Regions from separate parts of the Homo sapiens genome. Here all the other regions are linked to region 2. The links come from fine-mapping of genetic effects on gene expression. A gene starts in region 2. Each other region holds a variant in brackets. All regions are shown on one strand. Distances are from middle to middle. Region 1 holds the start of LOC124902840 (small nucleolar RNA U13). Region 2 holds the start of DDIAS (DNA damage induced apoptosis suppressor). Region 3 overlaps MIR4300HG (MIR4300 host gene).

Region 1 (8,186 bases), 61 kb after region 2:
ATTTGCAAAATGTGTATAATAACAATTGTAATGCTTATTAGGGTTGTTATGAGTATTTCATAGCATCTGGTATAAAGTAAAAGCACTAAATTGATGCTAGTTATAAATAATAATAGCTATTATTATTATGTAATATTGGGAAACCAGATGATTATACCAGGACTTTGTGGTTGACGTCTGGGTTGAGACCTATATTCATAGTGCTTTTTTTTTTTTTTTTTCCCACATCAGACAGGTAATGTGCTGATAGCATAACCAGGTTTGAGGGTGGTCCATTTCACACGTGAGCATGAAAACCCAATCATACGCTTCTTGCATTCATGGTTTTTAAATTGTGTATCTGTAGCCAGACCTCTGAGCTTGTTTTCTCTTCTGTGAAATGGGAATGATCATTATATGGTGCTCTCTTGGTTATTGTGAGGAAAGAACCTGCCCTGCCATCAAAGAATATTCAGTAGTTGTACTAGCAACCTCAGTCCCAGCTATTCACATTTCAGCGCATTTACAGTATGTGTAGGAATGACACGCCTTATGTAGAAATTGTTTAGAAGAAGCCGTTTGCTAGGGCTCACAAAATAAATAGAAAGTAAGTTCAGGGATACCTGGGTGTTGAGTATTTTGGACAGAGATGGTTGTCTGATTATATCACAGCCTCTATGTAAACAATCAACAGGCCAAGTGCTTGCTTTTGTCACGTCAGTAATATCTGCACATTATCAGGGTTAAGCTAAAGTATTATATGAGGTTAAGACAAAATTGTTGATATTTGACTGTTTTTGACTTATAAATGTGAGAATTTCATATGGTTCAATTTAATATTTATGTATTTTATGCATCCTACAGTTATTTGATAAAAGTATGTGAATATCTCCTTTTAAACTACTCGTCTTTTTTTTTTTTTTTAAGAGATGGAGTCTCACTCTGTCACCCAAGCTAGAGTGCAGTGGTGTGATCATAGCACTGGAGCCTGGAACTCCTGACTGAAGCAATCCTCCCACCTCAGCTTCCTGAGTAGCTGAGACTATAGGCACGTGCCATCACACCTGGTTAAGTTTTAATGTTTTGTAAAGATGAGGACTTGATATATTGCCCAGGCTGGTCTTGCACTCCTGGCCTCAAGTGGTCCTACTGCCTGGGCCTCCCAAAGTGCTGGGATTACAGGCATGAACCACTGTGCCTGGCATTGAGTTACTCTAGTCTTTAAATAAGCATAGGAATAGTGCTGAGGTCTGGCTAATATGACTTCAGTATTTTTTTGAAACTTCATTCACTCTGCTACCAAAATTGTTAAGGAAGTGCAAAGAGATATTAGAGATTCTGTTTTTTAATGGTAGAGGATGATGCTTGGACTCACAAAATCTTTGAGTTAGAAAGGAAATTTAGACTTACCTAAAATAAAATTTCCATATTAAATTTGCAAATATTTTGCAAAAAAATTTTAAGTGACATTTTTTCAGGCTTTCTATCTAGCATAGTAGTAGAATTAAAAATCAGCACTTCCTTTCTATAAGGCAGTTTGACAGGATGTACCAAGGGCCTTAAACATGTTGATCTCTTTTGAGCCAGTAATTTAAGAATTTATCCCAAGAAAACAATTAAGAATATAAGAAAGATTTAGCCCCAAGGGTATTTATTGTAGCCTTATTTGTAATGATGAAAGGTGGGGAATGACCCAATTTTAGGGTTGCTTCAGCTGTTTTTCAGCTCCCCATCCCGATTGCTCTCTTCTAGATTTTCTAATGTTGGTCGGTGCCCTTCGTAAGTTGTGTACAAAGCTGGATCCAGTACTCCAAGGGTGATCTGACCTCACAGAGCACAGTGCCTGGGGAGTGCCCTTAATCTGGACTTGGAATTCCATCATACAGAGGCCAAGTCTCTGACCATGATGTTCTCTCTGTGTAACTGGGGCTGCTGAAACCCAAGTATTGTCAGCCAGTGCCGGTCTCCAGCCATGCTTGTGTCTTTTAAGAAGTGACAGTAACTGCTATTTGTGGAGATGGCTATTCATAGGGACTCCTTTTCTTTGCCTGACAGAGGCCCAGTGTTCTAAGCTCTAAGAGGGGCTCTGATGCCAGCATGTGAGTCACACTCACTTGCTACTGTTCTTTTCCAGAGTTTTGGGCCACTTGTTGCTGCACATCACTACCTCCTCTCCCCCTGCCCAGCTTGCATTGTCGCCCTTCCCCATCTACCATGCTGTCCTTGAACATAAGGCGCTTCTCTGCATTCCATGTGTCTACTTTGTAGTTATGTGCTGCATTTTGAAAGAGCTGAATCTATGTCCAGGTTCAGGAAAGAATGCTGATCAACTGTTGGCAATAGATGGTTTAATATATCTTATGATTGTTTCTTGATTTCCATATTGTCTTGAGTTATTTCTTATTGACATATTTCCTAGGAATGTTTTCTGAGAAAAGTGCCATGCAAATGTTAGGTATTTTTTTGACTTACCATGAAAAATCGAGAGTTGCCAAAATAAACACTATTTTGACTTTTAATTAGCTCTCAGTTTAGCTCAATTCTCTCTTCATGTACATCCTAAACCCTGGTATTCCTTATTCTTATGACCTCACAGTTACTTTTGAAAGATATATCCAATTATTTGAACATCTTAATTTCTGACTTTTCTCACATTCAGCAGTTCTGAAAACTTTTGGCAATGATGCACACTCCATCTTCCTTTGGAAAGTCATATTACATTTGAGCATGTTAAAGGTTCTGAGAAATCATCTGAGATTATATAATAATAACAACCAGTCAGGAAAACTGTTCACATTTGCTAATATACAGTTTCTCAAAACTATCTGGCTAGGAAACATTTTTCCACAAAGTACCAATAAACATTCCATGGAAATATTGTGGTGCAGAATATATTTGGGGAGAGGCATTGAATTTTCCTGAAAATTCATTTTCTCTTTTACAGTTTTCCTTTTTTTTTTTTTCCCCCGCTGGCAGCTGGTGCCAGGCAGAACTGTGATGAGGGGCTGGGTTTGGTTGCATCCTTTCTCAGTACCCTCCTTTCCTGACTGGGAGCATGTCCCCAGCCCAGGCCCTGTTATTCCTGCTGCCCAGAATCTCTCTCCCTGAGGTGGGGTGACTGGGCTCCTTTCCTGGCTTCTTCTCTGGACTAGTCTTTTTTTTGTCAGGACTAGTCTATTATATATATAATCTTTTCCGTATGAAATGGAAAAGGACCAGATTACTGAATTCATGTCAGAGTCAATAGAGATTCAAGCTTACTGGGTTTGCCTTGCCACTGGGACTATTTGTAGTTTTACAGGTGGACACTTCCTAAGCTGTGTGTCATAATGGATAAGATGTATATTTCATAACCAGAGACAGCTGGGAACAAATCTAGGCCCTATTATTTACCAACTGAGTGACCTTGAAGATGACTTAACCTAAGAATCAGGTTTTTTTTTTCATGTAAAATAATGGACAATCATCTATCTGATAGGGTTCTTTGAAGATTACATGGTGTATTGGTTGGAAACCCAAGGCTTAATAATTACTAGCTGTTGTTGTTGTTAGTATTATTCAGCTATGATTCCATTGCCTGTTATTTTTCTCCAACATTTTATTATGAAAAGTTTGAAACATATGGAAAAGTTAAAATAATTGGACAATGAACACTCATGAACCTAACATCTAAATTCAATAAATAATATTTTATTATATTTGATTTGTCACATATATATTCACCTATCCATCACTTCATCTATCTTTTAATTTATCCTATTTTAAAATGAATTTTAAAGTAAATTGCAGACATCTTCCTCTTAAATACTTCAGCTTTATTATCATTAACAAGAGTTCAATATTTGTGTATGGTTCTTCTTCTGGTGGTGGAGGGGTGAAATCTAGATACCATGAAATACACAAATTATATCATTTTTCATGTAACCCTATTAAGATATAGAATATTTCTGTACCCAAGAAAGTTTGCACTGGCTCTGTTTAGTCAGTCCTCACCTTTACTCCTAACCCTGAATATTGTCTGATTTTTATAGCTAGGATTCC[A/G]GGCATTTTTTATAGGATAGTGATAGGAATATTTGGGAGCTGGGGAGTTGCAGCATATGCTTTTTATCACACGACAGATGCTGGAACTTGGTATAGTTTTTCCATACGAGATTTTATAAATTTTGCATTTTTATAAAAGTATAGTAATTCATTCAGCAAACATTTACTTACCAGATACCTTGCTAAGTACTGAGGGAGACATTCTGAAATCAAGTGAGTGAAGTAGAGCATTACAGGGGCTGTGATAAAAATAGGTACAGGGTATAATGGAGGCACCAAGAAGGGAGAGGTTTAATTCTTCCCAACTTGGAAACATAGGCAAGGATGGCCTTGAAGAGGAGGTAATATTTGAGTTGAGTGTTGTAAAAGATGAGTTGGTGTTCAAAGGCATTAGTGGAGTGGGAGAGGAGTTGGAAAACAGTGTTTCAGGGTGAGAAAGGGCAAAGGGGAAGGAGCCTGGTGTGGTGGGGAATGGTTTTCCTAGGCTGGAGCAAAGGCAGCAAAGAGGAAGCTAAGATGGTAGATGGAGAGGACTTTGCATACCATGCAAATGACTTCGGTTTATTTCTATAGCCTAAGGAGTAATTGAAGAGGTTTATTCATTTATGGAGGGGATTAAACCCAAGAGAGAAATTAAACACTGCAGTTAGTAGCTTAAGAATATTTTATGATCAGATCAAAATCATATTTCTTCTTTGTGTTATTAAACTGTCATTTTATATTCATATTCTGACTCTTTCCCCATTTATCTTTCTAAAATGACAGGTAGTGTGCCAGTATTTGAAAAATCCCAATGTATCTGATTCACTGCTGCTGCAGAATATTTTCCAAGCTCTGAATGTATATTACAATTATTCGGGCCAGGTGAAATGCCTGAATATTTCAGAGACAGCAACTAGCAGTCTGGGAACACTGGGTTGGAGCTATCAGGTAAATATGTATAATTTCCCCAAGTGGAACTTACTTTTCACTGACACAGTTGTGCTGTAAAAAAAAATCAGGGTACACAAGATTTTGTCACCTAACCTGGATCCAGTTTTGGGCTCTGTTACCTTATGCTGTGATACTATGGACAAGTTTTCTTGTTCATTCATTTGTTCATTTAATAATCACCAAATAGATATTGAGTTCTTACATGTGTCAGGCACTCCTCTAGGTTTCAAAGATACAAAGATAAATGGTACATGATCAAATCTAGTGTAGTAAAAAAGTAAGTAAGTAGTATTTCAATAGATCTTGATAAGTCCTACAAAGGAAGCATTTTATAGACATATAAAAGAAAGGGAGTCTAATTTGTCCTTCATCTGCACAATGAGACTAATAATAATAAACTTTCCTTGCAGAGTTGTTTTGAGGGTTAAATGTGATAATAAATGTGAAATCAAGCAGTTTGCTATGAAGGGACATAATCCTGACTTCCGTGACTTCTTGGCCAAGTCTTTTTAAGAATAATGAGAGATTATATGGCGCAGAAGTAAAGAACAGGGCGTTGAAGCTGCCTTGCCTGAGTTCAAACCCTGCCTTCACTACTTACCAGCATTATGACTTTGTGTAATTTATTTAACCTCTTTTTGCCTCATTTTTCTAATTGGATTCTCTCTTGGTTTGCTTCTTAGGCCTGCACAGAAGTAGTCATGCCCTTTTGTACTAATGGTGTCGATGACATGTTTGAACCTCACTCATGGAACTTAAAGGAACTTTCTGATGACTGTTTTCAACAGTGGGGTGTGAGACCAAGGCCCTCCTGGATCACTACTATGTATGGAGGCAAAAACATTAGTTCACACACAAACATTGTTTTCAGGTGAGTTTTTGCTGTCCAAAGATAAACTTCAGTTGGTGGAACATTTGTAGAATATCTGAAAAAACAGAACCAGGGAAATGCTGGACAATATAACAACATAGAATACAACAGTGCTACCTGTCATGTTTTCCTATGCCTTGAAAGATAGGATGCTGAGAAGAGATAGGATTTTTTGCTCTATTACCAATGTGCTTTATGAAAGTCTTAAAAATCAACAGCAACAAAATTTTTTAAATATTAAAAAAACTCTCCAGCACAAAATAAAGCATCATCTGTTGTTCTTAATTTGTCTTATTATTGTTATGTTGTTGTTGATGGTAATAAAAAATTTTCAGTATTCATCACTTTTGAAGTGCCCACTTCATTCTGTTCCAAGTACTAAATGAGGCACTTTAAATAAATTACCTGGTTAAATCCTCACAACAACCCTGTGAAGTAGTTTTTATAGCCCCTTTTTTACTGTGAAGGAAACTGAAGGTCACTGTGTTCAATCACTTGCCAAAGCTCATCCAGCTTTGTTTTAGTTACTAAGTGATAAAGCCAGCTTTCTATCATGGCCTGACTACAAATCCCATGTTTGTTTTTCTACATTACACTGTTCCTTAAGAAGTCACACAGTTGCCACTGGTTCACATTAGAGTTAATTGAGCAGACTCCATGTGTATCTGACTGGGACTTCAAAATTTCCATGTTTTGAGTTGAACATTAGGTTGTCAGCTATTAAAATAGCAACAAGTTAATCAAGAATTTCCCCAAGTCTATATAGAAATAGGAGATGCCACTACATACCTGTTAACCAGAGCTATTTTTAAAATTGTAAATGTCATTCTTTTAGAAGTTCTTTTATTTGTTTTAGTTTTTATTTTTTGAAAAAATCTGTTAAAACTTTATCTTGCATTTTACAGAAGTCTATGAATGATTTTTAAAAGGCATCTCCTTACCCCATGTCGCATTTCTCTGACAGTTGTTAAAGTAGGCAATGGATATATCACCAGCTTGAGCATTGCCATCTTGCAAGGATTTCAGACCAACCAACTACTCACCAAAGAACTTGGCAGCTTTTTAATCTCGTTTTTAATACAATGGTAGATCCACTCTGATGGCAAACTTATCCAGCCAAATCTCCACAACACAATTTGCAAAATTAGTGATTAGCAAATTGGTTAGCTTTGGCATGGAGCTGTGCTTATTTGCCCGTGACAGCCTGGTGTTGATACTGGCAACAGAACATTGAGAAGGACAACTTTCACACTGTAAGAAATAGAGTCGGATGCCCTTCTGCAGGATTGTGTCTGGTGATTGGCATGTGTGACATCACCTTGACAATTCCTTGATGTATCAAGGGCTAGTTTCCTCCAGCCCTTTTATGAGGCACTACTCTGTTCATAAGGGTGGAGCCCCATAACTTAAATGACATATTCCTTGATATATCTCCTCAAGACATTTTCTGTTTCTATGGGAATCTTCCTTTGATTACAAGTTGGTTATTACCGTCTGTAGAACCACTTGTACCCAATTCAGCCAACAAAAATGCAAGGAGGCTGGATGCAGTGGCTCACTCCTGTAATCCCAGCACTTTGGGAGGCCAGGGCAAATGGCTTGCTTGAGCCCAGGAGTTTGAGACCATTCTGGGAAACATGGTGAAACCCCATCTCTACAAAATATATAAAAATTAGTTGGCATGGTGGCATGTACCTGCAGTCTCAGCTACTCAGGAGGCTGAGGTGGCAGGACGGCTTGAGCCCAGGAGGTGGAGGTTATAGTGAGCTGAGATTGCACCACTACACTCTAGCCTGGGCAATAGAGCCAGATCTTGTCTCAAAAAACAAACAAACAAAAACTCCCCAAAAACCATAAAAACAAAACAAAAAAAAATGAAAGAAATGCAAGGAGACATTTGGGCTGTTGATGTAATAGTTTACAGATATCCATAAAGTTGATGAAAGGAGTTTTCTTGGTTCCTACTTGGACGACCTGTAGAGGTTTCATGGTGAATTTCCTTTTCTTTCAAGCAACTGTGTCTGGATTCTTTCCCCTTATAATGTTGAACATATGATCCAGTAGCTCCTTATATGTGCAGTCTCTTTCTGACCTACCTATCAGGGCCTATCTGATTGCTGAATGAGACAGCATCGTCTTTTTTGCTGTCTTCATCTTCTAGAGCTGTGTCTTTTTTTTTTTTTTTTTTTTCCTCGAGATGGAGTCTCACTCTGTCACCCAGGCTGGAGTGCAGTGGCACAATCTCTGCTCACTGCAACCTCCGCCTCCTGGGTTCACACCATTCTCCTGCCTCAGCCTCCCAAGTAGCTGGGACTACAGGCTCCCACCACCACGCCCAGCTAATTTTTTGTATTTTTAGCAG
Region 2 (8,186 bases):
TAGAAATGAGGGTAGAAAGAGGGACAAAAGTGTAAGTGTTGGGGCAGAACTAATTAAGGCCTCAGTTGGCCTTTGATTTTTCAAAGGGCACATACCAGGGATTACCTAGGTCAATGTCCAGGAATGAAGGCTCCAATAGACTTATGCTTATTAAAATATGTGGGGTCCATGTGGACACACTATAGTACATATCTAATTTACCATGGGATATTCTGGAATACTTGCTTTCTCTCCTTTTAGACAAGCCATATGGGGAGCTGAACTGTAATCCAAAGATGTTCTACTAATTTACCACGAAAAATTACCATCACAGGGAAGGGACATATCAGAAGCCCATATTTGTATATTTGGTATAACCTCATATTATACTAAAATTATAAACAGAAAGTTGCTTGAAGAAGAGCTGTTTGGTGAATCAACTATTTAATGGAATCAAGCTAATGCCTGATGCATTTTTCATTCTAGAGATGGTTTTGTCAGTGGTACCAGATATATAAACTCATTGATTACAACCTCTGCATCCCATTTTCATACTAGACAAGTATTTCTCAAACTTTATCATATATCAAAATCACCCAGAAGGCTTGATAAAACAGATTGCTGGGCTCCAACTCCAGAGTTTGATTCAGTAAGTCTGGGATAAGGGCCTGAGAATCTGCATTTTAAGTTCCCAGGTAATGGCCAAATTGCCCACACTTGAAAACCAGTAGCCTAGTCATTGAGACTATCTCATGGTGTGTAACACTTGTGATAAACATGGTTATAGTTAAATCCCCAAGGCCTGACAGCATCTTAGTCTCATTTGGATGATTTTGCAATTCTTTACTCTAATCCATTATTTGGTGATCTTTCAGCTTAACTACCTCATAATCAAGTTCTCAGAAGGCAACTTAATCATTTATGAAAAACCGTGCCCATACATGCACATACCAACACATCTTTTTTTCTTCTTCCGGCTAGACTAGAAGATCTAGAAAAACTGGGTTAGATTAGAAAATCTAAACTAATTCTTATTCTATGTTAGATCCTAGAGAAAAAGTTCAATTAAGTATTTAGTGTAAACTGGCATCTGGGGATGGGGCTGAAGAGAACATAAAAGTATAAGATGTGAATCCTATCTTAAAGTTCATAATCCAGTTTGAGTTCATTTGACTGCTTTACAGTTTGCAAAGTGCTTTTGCAACATTATCTGATCCACTCAGAGAAGTTAATCAGGTCTGGAACTCATGCCTTCTGATGAGTAGCTTACCAGTCTTTCTAGTCCATTACTCTCTTTGCTCAAGCTTCACACTTGAAAGAAACTATGTGTATTTGCTTCAAGACTGTGCCCAAAGGATGAAATTACTCCTTTAAAAAACTAGTTCCACTTCTAATGGCATAAAGAAAAGAAAGTATGACTAATTTTTCTCCCTTTCTTCGTTCCTCTCCAAACCCTTCTTGCCTTGCATGAAAATCTTTGTCACCTTGTAATTCTCCAATTTTCTGTTTCATATTTTACAGGCCAAGAGGCCTCAGCTATGGGAAGGGTGGCTGTTTTGAATTGTTTTCTTAACACTGTCTAATGGTCTCCTCCAATGGCACATACTTGTTTAATTTTTCTAAAGGCAGTCATAATAAGTCCCTAAAAAATAATTTAGTAACATTGACACGAAAATTCTAGAAAAGTAAGAGAGGCAGGCAGGAGAGTGAAAATTAAGTAAGCAAAAAAACAAAGAGACAAAATCTTCAGTGAAAGGAGAAATACTGATGAAAAATGCTTTAAAAACATGAACCAGGAAAATCTTAGTACGATACAGTTTTTCCATTGATATCATTTATGAGACATTTATTACAGGGATGGAGAAGGTCACATCTCAGTAAATGGTACTACTCACTAACCAGTAACTCAAACCAGATACCTAGGAGTCATTTGTCATTCCTCCCTTTCCTTCATATCCCACATCACACTCATCAGAAGGTACTTGAATCTACTTCCATACTTAGAAACCATCATTCACTTTTCCCTCATATATTCTGCCATCATCTTAATCCAAATCACCATTATCTCCTGTTTATGGTGCTGGATTAACCTCCTAACCATGATCCGGTCTCTGCCCATCTTTCCAGACTCATCTCATACAACTGTCCTTTCTAAATATATTCCAGCTATACTGGTCTTTCCTTAGATTCTTGAACATTAACATGTCAAGCTCTTTCCTGCCTCAGGACGTTTGCACAACCTGTTCACTCTGTTTAGAATGTTTTTCTTTCCCTCTTTTGCATGGTTGGATCACGCTCATCTTTTAGGCATCAGTATCAACTCCTTGGAAAGGTCTTCTTAGACCAGTCTAATTCACATAGTTTCCTTGTAAATTCTCCTTAATTCCATCCATAAAAGGTAAGTTCCATTAGAACAGGAATCTACCTTGTTCATCATTGGATCTCAGTACCTAGCAATTCTTGGCACAGACGAAAGAAGCATTTAACTATCTGCAGAATAAACAAATAATTACTTGGTGCTCTGTGATCCAGTCCTGTGGGGTCAGGAAAGGGTTTCTGATTTAAAAGGCTTTGCAAACTGACTAAGAATTAGCCAGGTCAGGGACAGGGTCAGAAGACGGTTTGGGGTGAGAAGGAGGATAGTGCACTTCAGGAACACAAAAGACATTCTATATGGCTGGAGCGGTGGAAAACCACTAGGGCTGAAGAGCCAGGCAAAAGTCAGATAGGAAAGAGTCTGTAAGTCATGTTAAAGAGTTTGGGCTTAAACCTGAGGGCAAATAGGAGCGACTGAAAGGTTTTCAATGGGGAGTGCCTCGGTCAAATATGAACTTTATCAGCCCAGCAATGTGGAGACTGGACTGGAAGGTAGCAAGATTGAAAGCAGGAGAACCAGCTGGGGCGGCGGGGGAGGGGGGGGTTACTGTCACAGCTATGTAGCAGTCATAGGGTCGAACCAAAATAATGTCAGTAAAAAACGGAGAGAAGTGAACAGATCTGAGATATTCAAGAGGCTGGTAGGGACTGGCTGGATGTGAAAAGGAAGAAAACTTTCAAGCTCTGGTTTAAGCACATGGCTCAGTTAAAATATGTTCCTTCTAAGCCATCATAGCATTTTGGAAGATCCCCTTTCAGCACGTACTACTCTGCACAGTGGCCCACTGAATACGTATTTGCACATTACAGAAGCAAGAGTCGCGCCTTTTCCTCTCTATTTCCGATTCTAAAAGCTCACTCCGAGTCTAGCTCGATGGCACTGTAAGTGTTCAATAAACGTTCGTTAGGTGATTGCAAAAGCACTGAGTCTAAAATAAAATAACTGACGTTTATATTCTGTTACCCTCATGGCTGCCCGTTTACAGAGAACCACTTGTGAAAAAACAAGCGCCGGGCTCTGGGTGGGTCTCATTCATAATGAAGTTAAGAGCCTCCTTAGGAGTCTCCGGCTCTTCGGCTTCCCGAGAACCCCTTTACCCAGCTCACCTGGGGGAGAAGACCAGGAACGGGCCCAGGCGACGCACAGTGACTCGGACCGGCCGAACTCAGTAGCACGCCGGCAGCCTTCCAATCGAATCTCCCGCGTCCTTTTCCGCCGGAAGTAACGCTTTGGCTCTGATTACTCAGAGCCAATCAGAAGAAGGCGCCGCAGAGGGTGGAGCTTAGCGAGGAAATCCTACAAGCATCTGGAAACGACCATTTTCGTCAAACTGCGGGTAGAGTCTTTCTCCCCGACAGGTGGATCAGTAGTACAGTCCGTAAAATTGGTTTTGGAGCTTCGCTGAGCCTCCTGGGCGTAGGGTTCCCGGGAAAGTGTGGAGTGAGCCGCAGCGCCCTGGGGTCTGGCGGGGTGACTGAAAGAGGGAATGGAAGCTGGATGAAGAGGGTTGAGGGAGCTTTGGAAGCCAGACCCGGCGCTGTCCTAGGGGCTAGCACTACCCACGGGCGGAGGGAGGAAGGGGGCGGTGGCAGGAGGCAGGAGGGGGGTGGAGCGCGGAGTGGGTTTTCGGGTGCCGGAGAAGAAAGGGGGCGTTATTTGAAAGAAGGGACCGGGACCTGGCGGGATTTAGGGGCGATGTGGACCCGGGGCGACCTGTGTAATGGATGGGTTGTGCGAGCAACACAGTTTTGGGGTGACCCAAGAACGGAGTATCATAGGGAGTGGTTAGGCTCCAGATGGAGGTGGGTGCAAGGAGCACAGTCTTTGGACCTGGACCCAGCGGTCTGCGACGACGTGCTCCGCTCACTGCTGAGTGATCTAGTGCAAGTTCCCGCACCTCTCTGAGCCTCAGTTTCCACATCTGTAGATGGGAATAACAATCATATACGACGCACAAGATTGCTGTGACGATTTAGTTAGAGGAGATGATGCGTGTGCCTCCCTGCCTCGTGATACACTGGCCTGTAGTGAACCTTCAATAAATTGTCATGGTAGCTGTTATTGCCGTTACGTAGGATTTGCGGAAGGCAGGAGGTGTCGCAATGGAATTGCGGTGGCCAGGGCAGGGTTTGGTGGTGATGATAATGGTAGGGATATTGGGTGACCTGAAGGACAGGTGGGCTTCGGGGGCGCTATAGATAAAGCATGGGCTACAGCGATGAGTTAGGAAGAGGCCCTAGCATGATAAGGGCAGACTTGGGGTGTGACCGCAATGAAGGTGAGTGCTAAGGAGCAGATGGCACGAGAGGAAAGTGGAGTGGAGGCGGTGTCCTCGGGGATGGGGGCGGAGTGGCTGTGGTGACCTGGCTTGGGCGGCGTCTCTGAGGAGCTGGCTGGCTTTGGGTTTCCCCTGGGAGGAGCTGTTTTGCGGCGGGCGGAGCTGCAGGCTGGGCAGGGCTTAGCCTGTGCGCTTCTGCTGGCCTCCTTTTCGCCCTCCCACCCGCACTGCAGTCTCCAGCCTGAGCCATGGGCCGCCGAGCCCTCCTGCTCCTGCTTCTGTCTTTTCTGGCGCCCTGGGCCACCATAGCCCTCCGGCCGGCCTTAAGGGCCCTCGGCAGCCTACACTTGCCAACCAACCCCACATCCCTCCCGGCTGTAGCCAAGAACTATTCGGTTCTCTACTTCCAACAGAAGGTAAGGGGGAGCGGGGGCTTCGCCGTCCCAGGCCCAACCGCCGGGAACCCTGACCCTCAGAGCCCGGGCAACGGAGCCTACCTCGAAATTCACACCCCTTGATGCCTAGGATCTGTTCGGTTTTTGGCTAACATCTTCCAGAAGGTGGTCCCAAATCCCAGTTCTGTTTAAATTTTCTCCTCCCATTACCAATAATTTGGTAGTAGTTTTGGCTGCATACTCTTGATTCAGGCTTTTCTGTAATTGGACACGACAGTCACTTCAACTCCCTCTGCTCCCAGAGGGTGCCCCAATCCGAACTCCCTTGACCTTCCCTCAAATTCAAATTATTAAATGCCAGCTCTGGTACCTAGTCTGCGGTGATAGTCATCCTTTGCCCCAAGGCAGCCCTAAATACAAATTTTAATATCTTTACCTATTAGAAAATATTGGATAGTTATCCATCCTAAAAGCCAGCCTCTCAGAAGGGGTCAGCTCAGAGCTGATTTTGTAGCCCTATTATTAAGAATTGTTGACAGTCCCTATTCCCCATAAGACTGAATGTATGTAGCCTATGCTTGTAAAAGGAGTTGTAGGAGTTTGTGGTGGGGGTGGGGATTAGCCTTTCTATGGTCTGTAACGTGAAATTAGAGGTTTTTGGGCTTGATGCCTTTGTGCTTGGCTGCAGCATGAGGCATTCCCCCACAGGTCTTGATGGAAAAGTACATCCTCTGTGAAATGACAAGTAATCCTTACAGTTCAGCATTTCTGAAAGCCTGTGTAAAAATAGGAAAAGATTTGGAAAAGGTTGGGATTAGAAAGAGTGCAAGGGTCTGAAGCTTGGCTTTAGGAGTCAGATAGAACCGGATTCCACCCTGCTAGCTCTGTGACCTTGGGCAGGTTACAGTACTTCTGTGAGCCTAGTTCCTTGATCTCTTGGGGTTTGTGGTGATGGTTGAATGAGAGCAGATAACGTACTCTTAGCAGAGTATCTGGCTTCAAGTAGGCACTCATATAATATGTGGTTATAGACCTATGTGAAATTTTGTTGTTGTTAATTGTGCAGAGACAAGGCTCACTATGTTGCCCAGGCTAGTCTTGAACTTGTGGGCTCAATAATCCTTCTGCATCAGCCTCCCAAAGTGTTGGGATTACAGGTGTGAGCCACTGAGCCCAGCCCTTATGTGAATTTGGAATGGGAATTTGTGGTAGAGGGATGTCATAGACTTCCAGAATAACTTAGAAATAATTTAAAAATTTTTTTATTTTTAAAAATAGAGATGGGATTTTGTCATCTTGCCTAGGCTGGTCTTGAACTCCTGGGCTCAAGCGATGCCCCTGTCTTGGCCTCCCAAAGGGCTGGGATTGCAGGCGTGTGCCACTGTGTCCCCAGCCAAGAAACAATTTTTAACCCAGACATTTGAGTTCAAGTTTATGAGGAAGAGAAAACATTTTAATTTTAGCAGGGGTACTAGGAAATAATCTTTTTTCTCAGGCAACTCCCTTAAATTAATTCTCTAGGGCATAATTCCCTCATTTGTAAATTAGGAGGGTTGGGACAAGGACCAATGTGTTTTACACTTTACTGAGGAAAATTAAGGGCTCTTTGGGGAGCTGTTTCAGAGGGAAAGTGGATGAAGGCTGAAGTGGAGGCCAAATTAGGTGCTCTAGTACCCTCTCTTGGATCTCTTTCAGCTTTTACCTGTTTTATATGCTGGGATTTTATATACAACTATTTGCAGAACTCAACTGCTAAAGTAAAACGGTGGGGAGGACTATTGGATTGGGAGATCTCTAAAATCCCATTGGGATTGATGAAAAAGAGAACTATCAGCAGAAAAGAGGAAGGGAACAAATGAGTTGTTAGTACCTTAGTTCCTAATTTATGTTCCTTTATTGTAGATTCTTTTCTTGGCCACTACACTCCTTAGAAATATAATTCAACACTGTTTCTTTTTCCATTTTTGATGATATGCAAAGTCCAGCTTTACTCAGCCACATTTTGTCCACTGGCTTATATTTAATTTATATTTTAGGATACAGATTCCACGTATGTATTTATTACCATAATAATAATTTTTCTTCTGTCTATTCCAATTGAGTTTTATTTCATTTTCTGAGGAAAACTTTTACATATGTATTTATTGCATAATTATAATTATACTAGTTGCCAATTTCTGAACCATTGATTTTTAGTTAGGACTATGTGTGAACTCAACTTTAAGTTTTTAAGTTAGAGCACATGAAATACTTTGATGCCTTCTAGTAATAAACTTATTATTAAAACTGTAAGGCTTAGTTTTTTATTCAAGGTTTAATTTTTATTAAACTTTATAATGATTTACCTGTGGTTATATCTGCCCCAGTGACCAAGCTGGACCCAGCTGTCCTTCTATGTATATAAAGGATGTGGTTTTATGGAGTGGTCTCTAAGAAGGCTTAGCCCATGGTCTTATCCCTCCCCTGCTTAGAAATTCTTCATAACTCTGATTGCAGGATAAAGGCCAAACACCTTGGCATGGGAATCCATTGTTCCTTACTATGTAACCCTAGCTGGTCGTTCCAACTTTATATTCTGCCATAATTCCCCATCCCAGCTCCCACTTTTAGCAACCTAACAGACTCAAGTGACTTTTACTGTGTCAGAAATTCTGTCTGGAATACCATCCCTCTTCCCCACTATTTAAACTCATAATTCTATTCCAGCAGAAATGTCTCACCTCTTCTGCGAATCTTTGACTTCTTTAAGGAAATTTAGTTGGTCTTTTTTCATCCTGCACATTTACTATATTGTATGTGTCCCTCCAGCTCGTTAGTACTCTACAATACCTAGAAGAGCCTATAAAAAAGTATAAAGCACAAAATAAATAGTTGTTGAAAGAGTGAATGCATGATTATTCAAAAAGAACCTAAACAAAGCAAAGGCTACCATCATTTAATTGTCACAAATCATTTTTTATTTTTCTTTTTATCTTTTACTTTAATTCTTTACTAATTATTTTTTCCTCCTTTTTCAAGGTCTTCAAATATTGAGTTAGGTAGGACTATTTGATTTCTTTTACCTGAAATAACTGAATTAGGAGACCAGAGAGAGGATAGTACATCACTTGGGCACATCGAGGCTCTGGGTACATGTGTAGTATGTGTGGTATCAGTG
Region 3 (8,186 bases), 870 kb after region 2:
CTTCCCAGTACTATAGTATTCCCTTGCACAAGATGAAAATTTGGATATATTGTTTTGGAATCTGGCTCCTGACATTTTTTCAAATGTTTGGAGTCATTCCTAACTTGGGGTCAGGGAAAGGGAGGCTACTTTGATACCCAGACAAGGAAAGAGAGATGACTTCTTTCCATTAAGCTAGAAGGCAAAGTGTACGTCCTAAAATTCCTTATACTACCCTGGAATAATCTCCCTGAAATAGGTGAATTAAACACGTACTGAGTCCCTGAAAGATTTGTGGAAAAGTTCCTGGAATTCCTGGCCAGGAAGGTGATGAAACCAAGACTCAGAATGTTGAGTGGAGGTGGCATGACCCAATCTAGAGACTGCCACATGGTGGCAACAAATTATTGCAATAATATACAGTTTAAAGTGCTTTATAATATACAGAGCAGGATCCATGCATAATCCCATAAATTTGAAAAATAAGATTGAGGACATGTCTTTTACTTTAACCCAAGCCCAAGCCTAATGTGTGTTAACTACACCTTTTTAGTACATTTTAAAATATTTGGATTATCAGATAACTATTCATACTTTCAGAAGGAACTAGTGTATTTGTTGTACTTTGTTATCCTTTGAAACTAGATGCCCAGTATAGTCAATGCTCTTTCCATTTACTAAGGTATCCTTAAATATGAAAATAAGAATATTTACATGTTTTCACCAAAACATAGCTATTAGTAGATCTCAAAAATAATTCTGTCAATCAACAGGTTTCCTTTTTGTTTTTCTCCAAGACATCACAGAAGCAGTTTGACTTTTCTTCCCCATTGAATTGAATAAATTGAGTTAGAATAAATCTGTATAAATTTGGGTGGTTTTCAATCACCACCTTATTTTGTCAATAAATAATTTAGTTTTTTTTTTTAAACAAACCAGATCATATTCATTGGGCTCAGATACAAAGGAAACTGCTTTGTGGATAAAATGGAATATCTAATTTAAATGCATTTGTGGATATAATTAAAATATTATACTATGCCTTTACATAGCTGCAGTTTTTGCATCAATATTTTTAACCTGAAGGTTGTAAGTAATTATGTTTAATTGGTTTAGCTTCTATTAAAATAATTAGATTACAGTGATGCAATTTCAAATGTGTCTGTGTATATTGGAATTAATTTTTAGCAATTAGCTTCCTCACAGATTCTATCAGCATTGTAATTTGAATTTTGCTTCCAGAAAGTTACTGATACTACAGGTTTGGGTCTCTTTTGTTTGAATTGTTGAAGAACAAACATTCTGTACTTGGCACACAGCTGAAAAACTCTGACCTGGACTATACTTGAATCTACATTATAAATATCAATATTAAAGTATAATCATCATTCTGTTCTCCAAAGTTGATATAATGATATCATTAATTGTTTGTTTTCATACTGGCAAAAAGTAAAAAATAAATAACTCCTGCTTTTGTGCCATGACTATGTTTGCACAGTCTTTTGTCATGGCACCTGCAACACGTTATTTTTCTTATTATACCCTTCTTGGAGACACGTAATACATGCACAGACAGAGAATCACACGCACACGCACACATGCAACTATACCAGGTTTAATAAAGAAAAAAATACTAGATTGCCTCTGTTTCCATTTTTCAGCAGATCATATTTGCCCTGTAAAATTACATGGTAAAATAAATGCCAAGATTCCCAAGTCAAAAACTCTTAATAGAATGAAATATATCTTTGCATAATACCCTATTTAATTATTTTATCCCTATATTTGTAGTCCCTTTGTTAACTATATCTACTTTACTATTCAACCTTATTTTTCAATACTTTCTAAAATGTACTCTCTACTACAATTTGACTACTCTCATCATTTCCTTTATAACCTCTTTGTTTGTCGTGTATTATTTTTTAGTCCACTTCCTGTGCAACATGTGGGTCAATAATAGAAAAAATAAAATAAAATGGCTCTCATATTACTCAAACTCAAAATAGGAGTTTTAGTTTCATCTCTGATTTTTATGTATTTTGTAAAATTCACTGTGTTCTCTAGTTGTCTGTTTGTCCTCCATAAACTCAGAATGATAACACCATCCACCTCACACTAAAGGAGCAATGGATTCAGAGGTGCTGAGTAAACTATTTGACTTCAAAAATACCCTCTTTCTACTGTGCAATGCTGCCTCATTTATAAGCAATTATACTTTTATATTGGAAGCCTACATTGTTATTGCTGTTGTGGTAAGACTAAATTCAATTCGGCAAATATTTATTGGGGTTCTACTCTTTGCCCGGTAGTATTCAAAGTGTTAGAGATGTAATAGTGAGCAAAAAGAGAAGTACGTATCTCTCAGAGATTATGTATTAGAGGTGGGGAGACAGCATTTAATGTGCAATGAAATCAAGACAAAGATAATTTCATATAGTGATAACTGGTATAGGGTAATGAAATAGGTGATGTGATTGAGAAGATCTGGAAGGAAGCAGGGCTGGGGAAACTGCTTTTATATATTGATGATTGTGTCAGAAAATTGCAATAAATCCATGAATAATTGTTGTTGTTTTTAGAACTAAATTTAAAACTTGTATTTACTCTTATTAAAATCTATTATAGGCAAAGCATAAAATTGTTTTGGCTTATTGAGGCTTATTATATATGGTTAGGAATATGCACTTGAAATAAAAACTTCTATAAAATCAGGTAGATATTGTTTTAATGCCAAATTCTCATCTATTCCTATTCAAACTATCAGGTTTTAAATTTATAAATTGGAGGAAGCACTGAAACAACTGGCAAAACACCTAGCCAAGAACAGATAATCTGACAAAAGTTTGTTTTCTTCTTTTTATGTATTTAATTTTCATGGGTCCCTAAAGTCTTTTTATTCCTTTAGTTTCCATGAATGGCTAATATTCTATCATTTTTAGTATTGTCCCTATCTGATACATAAGTCCATTCCAAAACGTTTAAGTTATTTTGATTCCAAAATCACTCCCACTCATGGACATTTAATTTCTGTTTAAATACATCTACTGATGAGAAGACACATCTCCTATAATTTCTTAGTGGTCCATTGAGTTCTGTTTGATATTCAGATTAGGAGTAAAATGTATGGCAATTATTACTAATTGAAGATAGTTTATTATTATTACCATTATATATTATTTTTGATACGGTAAACCATATCAAAAAGTGTTTTATTCCCTCCAAATCTCATGTTGAAATGTGACCTCCAATCTTGAAAGTGGGCCAAGTGGGAGGTGTTTTGGTCACGGTAGGGGATCCCTCAGGAATGGCCTGGTATCTTCCCTCATGGTAAAGAGTGAGTTCTGGCTCTGTTAGTTCACATGAGATCTGGTTGTTTAAAAAAGTGGCACATCCCCCCGTACTTGCTCTCTCGCCATGTGATACACTGGCTCCCATTTTGCCTTCCACTATGATTGTAAACTTCCTGAAGTCTTTACCAGGAACACATGTGGGTTCCATTCTTGTATAGCTTACAGAACTGAGGGCCAATAAACCTCTTTTCTTTATAAATTACCCAATGTTAGTATTCCTCTATAGCAACAAAACAGACTATTAAAATAGTATCTAATATTATATTGTAAATATCAAACTCTTATCTAGTGTTATTATTAGAATATTAATTGAATGTGGTATTTTATGCTTGTATTCATGTTTACCAATTGATTGTATGACACTTTCTACTATTTAAAGAGACAAGTGTTTCTGATGG[G/A]GTTAATGGTAGATGATAAGAGAAAAGCTAAGGAGAAAGAAATTCATTTTTTTGTGAAAATCATCTATTGTTTCAGTAACTGCTGTATTTGAAAACCCTGACAGCCAGTTCCTTCATTCAAGAACATTTATTCCCATATGTTTTGTGGTCCCACATCATAAAAATTACCTATTGGAAGAGTTATTGCTTCAGGCAATAATGAGACCATAAATCTGTTAGCCTCCCTTAACGTCCCTGGAAACACACAAGAGCTGTTGGGGCTATTTCTTCCCTGAAAAGTGTAAAATCATCATTTTTGTTGATATTCATTTAAATCAGACAAGTTTCTCCACTTGGGGCAGAATTTCTTTGATAGAAACTAAATCATGAGGCCTCCAGCCCACAGCACTTGGAGACACTTTGATTGAACAAAGCAATTATGTTCCTGAAAATAAGATTGCTTGACAAAGAACATCCAAAGTGCATATTATATGGAGTTTGCATTTGGAGATCACTTTCACTCTAGGCAAGCAAGAATGCCCTGACAGTTTTCTCTTTAAATTGTAAGCTCTAGCAGAGATGTGGAAGAGATGTAATGGTAGTGTGTGTGTCTTCTTACTGCTTCTCAATTTGTATAATAAAAAACAGATACTTTCATCTTATTAAAATAGGAAAACTCAATAGCGGAATAATAGGGAAAGAAGTTGATTTATAAAGCTGCATCACATTGGAAAGAACATTTGATTTGGAAGCAGAAAAATTGGACCCAAATGAGCGTTCTAACCTTCACTAGCTATGGGAGAAGGCCTGCCTGAGTGTGTTTTCTCATCTACAAAGAAAAAAAAGTAATAGCCAGGTTGTATCCAGTCAAAGGGTTGCCAGGTCATTGTTCATTAATTCTTGTATATTAAGACCCTGAAATCTTTAGGATCAAAGACTAAGAACGCCTTTTCTTTTAGATAGGCCTAGATACTCAGCCAACCTCTATTGCCATTTTGAATCTGCTCTTGATTTTTTTTTTTTTATCATTCTTTACCCAGTGTTTCTTCACCCAGTTCTTCAGGGAATTTTACAAAATATGCTCAAAACCTCTCTCTTTAGTTTTGTTTTAGATAGATTCAAAAGTTCTTTTAATTTTAGATATATTAATTTTCTTATTAGTCACTGCAGGAATAAATATGGAAAATAGAAATATAAAAGAGTTAATAAAGTCAATGAAGTTAACATTTATCGATCATCTATCATATTTATTCCTTAAAAATAAAAAATGTTATGTGGTGTTAGTAAAACAAAGGCTTACAGATATTAGGTGACTTTTCTAAGATAAAAATATTCAGTAGAAGGATGGAATTTGAATTCCAGCTGTTCTAAAGGCAAAGACACTGCTTATTATTATACTATTTTGCCTAATGAGAACAAGAAGTAGGGAAACTTTTGCAATTACAATATTCGCTCTCCATAACTTCTTTTCTTAATCCAAATTACTTTGTGCTCTTTCATTCCTCAGGGCAGAGTTTACCAAACAGCTAGTCTCTTCTCTAGATAGGGATAGACGACCATTCCTCTATGATTCCTACTCCCAAACCTATGGGTTATCAGAACGGTGCAAAGTAAAAAAGTGGGAATAAGACAGACCTGAGTTGAACTTCTGGTTCTGGCACTTCCAAATTGGGGATTTCGGGTCACTTTGCTGAATCAATCAGAAATATGATTTCCTTATCTATCAGATGCATATAATACTTAAGCTTGAAAGAGTTTCACCAATATTAAGTCAGATAATATACATAAATTGCCTGCACACTTACATAAAAATCCATATTAGTTATGGTGGGAACATGCCCAAATGGGAACACGCCCAAATATTATCTTCACATTAATAAAGAAAGGTTCCTGGATTGTGGATTCCTTTCTACCAGAACTGAATCACTTAACCCTGAAAAGTTTTTGGGTGGCTACATGCAGGAATGCTGCTTACCTCATGGCAGATTGAGCAAGCATATATTCAGATCCCTTATCAATGAGTATGTATTTGATATTTTGTATTATTTCAGTCTTGCGCTTAAGTTGTGAGCTCGAATTCCAAAACTTTAAAACTTTCTTTTTTCTTCCTTGAAATGCACATAGATTTTATGTGGCAACAATTCCTGGTAAACTTTCATTTTTCCTCAGGACTTTGCATGATTAAAGTCTCCAGAATGAAGTAAAACTTTGATTCAACAAATCATGAAGCCCCTTGAAGTTGAGAAGACTGGAGCAACACATGTTTTGGTTCCCTACAACATTCCAGACACTGAGTATATCAATTAGGGTACGGGCAGGTTTTAGAAACCACACTAGTTATTTTAAGATATAAAATTTAATGTAGGCAACTGTATAAACAAGTACTGGAAAACTGAAAAGGCAGAAAAGGAATCCTGCCTATGGAAATTAAGGCTCTGCATGCCCCAGTTATCTTTAAAAAGAAAATAGTATTAGCTGTTTTGTGTCCATGGGGGTGATGCCAGGTCATTGCCTATTGGCTCCCTGTTTACTAAGTTTCTGAACCTTGTATTTAGGTTCAGGGGAGACCACACCATGAATAGCCCCCTTTTTTTTGAGCAGGCTGTAAAATCTCAGCCTATATTCATTACTTTTTTGGATCACCTTCCACTTTTTTTTAAATTTTCTTAAGTGTCTTTTTCATAAAGATAACATAGAGAGAACTATTGAAGAAAGCATCTACCAACTCTAAGGGTAGAGACAAAATGGGAAAATGTCAGAGTTACTGGCACCTAACAACCTGTGATACAGATTTCTGAAGAAGGGGTCCTTTCCAGCTGCTAGCCTTTAGGAACTTGAAGAGGGGCCAGCAGAACTCTAAGAACAGACTTTTCCTAGCTGATTCTGATACTTCAAATATTTGAGGTCACTGACAGCTAGAACTTGCATCTCTGAGATAGCGAAATGAAGCTGATCCTTGGAGCATGGGAAGAAAATTGGAAGTGGAATACATTGCTGCAGCCAGGGTGAAGAAATGTTGTTGGTGACACTAACAGAAGCAGCAAACAAAACCAGCCAGTGCAAGTTCCTTCTCCCTTCTCAATACTTAGATTTTTCACCCTATCATCTGTCTCTGCCGAGTGTATCTGCAGGCAAATGGCAGGCCTATCTGCAGAAAAACAGCAGGGAAAGAAGTGTGGTTGGTACCGTTCCTGCTTTTTTATGGTTAGGCAGAATACAGAAGGGTGAGCCTTGAGTGGGGCTTCAGTGGCTTACTAACCAGCACACTATCTTGGGTGAGTGGGGTATAGAATGAACTGGAGAAGCAGGAGATATAGTACTTGCCCTCAAGAGAATGTATTTCTAAAAGCTCCTGTACTACTTTTGAGAGATTAAGTCAAGAGGAAGAGTTGAGTTATGCATGAAAGATTTCATGAAGGATGAACAACTTCAAGTGGCAAAACTTATACGATGAGGACAGAAACAAGAGTGGAGGTGATATGTGTTCCAGATAATATACGTGGTTTATTTTTACTGGATTTACCCAACAAATTTATCTAACAATAACTAACCAATTTTGTTTCCAGTGTACACAGAGTCACAGAAAATTGTCCTAAGGGACCAAAAAAAAAAAAAAAAAAGACTGGATTTACCATTCTCTGGGAGGCACAGGGTGTGTAGCATAAGGAATTTAGGGGGTTTTCATTTCAAATTTTGCTTTGTCTTTCTAGGTCACTGAGTAGCAAAGAATAAAAGCTCATAATTTTCTAGTCTCTCTTTGGTTAGGAAGTAAATGATAATCACATTGAGTTAGATAAAAATACAAATAAAACTTTACTTGAAAGAATGATGTAAGGAAAATCCTTATGTTCAAGAGATAAATTTAATTTATTTAACTATAGTACTAAATTATAATTCCTCATCCCAACTACCTCATGATTTAGACAGTTGAGTGGTCCAAAAGGAGCTTCACGTGGTATGAAGACCACTTAGGCATTGATTTATCAGGGTTAGTTTCATGCGCGTCTGTGTGAAGAGACCACCAAACAGGCTTTGTGTGAGCAACACGGCTGTTTATTTCACCTGGGTGCAGGCGGGCTGAGTCTGAATAGAGAGTCAGCGAAGGGAGATAAAGGTGGGGGATTTGGGTTTTATAGGATTTGGGTAGGTAAAGGAAAATTATAGTCAAAAGGGGTTGTTCTCTGGCGGGCAGGGGTGGGGGTCACAAGGTGCTCAGTGGGGGAGCTTTTTGAGCCAGGATGAGCCAGGAAAAGGAATTTTACAAGGTAATGTCATCAGTTAAGGCAAGGACTGGCCATTTTCACTTCTTTTGTGGTGGAATGTCATCAGTTAAGGCAGGAACAGGCCATTTTCACTTCTTTTGTGATTCTTCAGGTACTTCAGGCCATCTGGGCATATACCTGCAGGTCACAGGCGATGCGATGGTTTAGCTTCGGCTCAGAGGCCTGACATTCCTGCCTTCTTATATTAATAAGAAAAA

The links. PIP is the estimated chance that this variant, and not a neighbour inherited with it, causes the effect.
Region 1: its variant is fine-mapped to the expression of DDIAS in whole blood (TOPMed, PIP above 0.99).
Region 3: its variant is fine-mapped to the expression of DDIAS in whole blood (INTERVAL, PIP 0.92).

What each region holds. Positions count from the first base shown.
Region 1 is chr11:82,836,025-82,844,210 of GRCh38, reverse strand. PRCP (prolylcarboxypeptidase) reads left to right here. Exons shown (of 9, transcript NM_005040.4): 7 at 4,786-4,950; 8 at 5,637-5,824. It overlaps LOC124902840 (small nucleolar RNA U13), which reads right to left and starts at 326; the gene lies at 226-326. It also overlaps the pseudogene EIF2S2P6. The variant A/G (reference allele first, on the strand shown) is at 4,021.
Region 2 is chr11:82,897,099-82,905,284 of GRCh38, reverse strand. DDIAS (DNA damage induced apoptosis suppressor) reads right to left here and starts at 3,549. Exons shown (of 6, transcript NM_145018.4): 1 at 3,463-3,549. PRCP (prolylcarboxypeptidase) reads left to right here and starts at 4,855. Exons shown (of 9, transcript NM_005040.4): 1 at 4,855-5,050. The coding sequence starts at 4,883. LOC124902602 reads left to right here and starts at 3,230. Exons shown (of 2, transcript XM_047427953.1): 1 at 3,230-3,237; 2 at 3,604-4,371. The coding sequence starts at 3,230. The coding sequence ends at 4,261. RefSeq lists silencers at 3,920-4,009, 4,060-4,109 and enhancers at 4,320-4,369, 4,650-4,749, 4,900-4,959, 5,080-5,129.
Region 3 is chr11:82,030,530-82,038,715 of GRCh38, reverse strand. The region is part of intron 5 of MIR4300HG (MIR4300 host gene); the gene reads left to right. Among named protein-coding and RNA genes, the nearest start is that of MIR4300, 140 kb to the right of the region's middle. The variant G/A (reference allele first, on the strand shown) is at 3,728.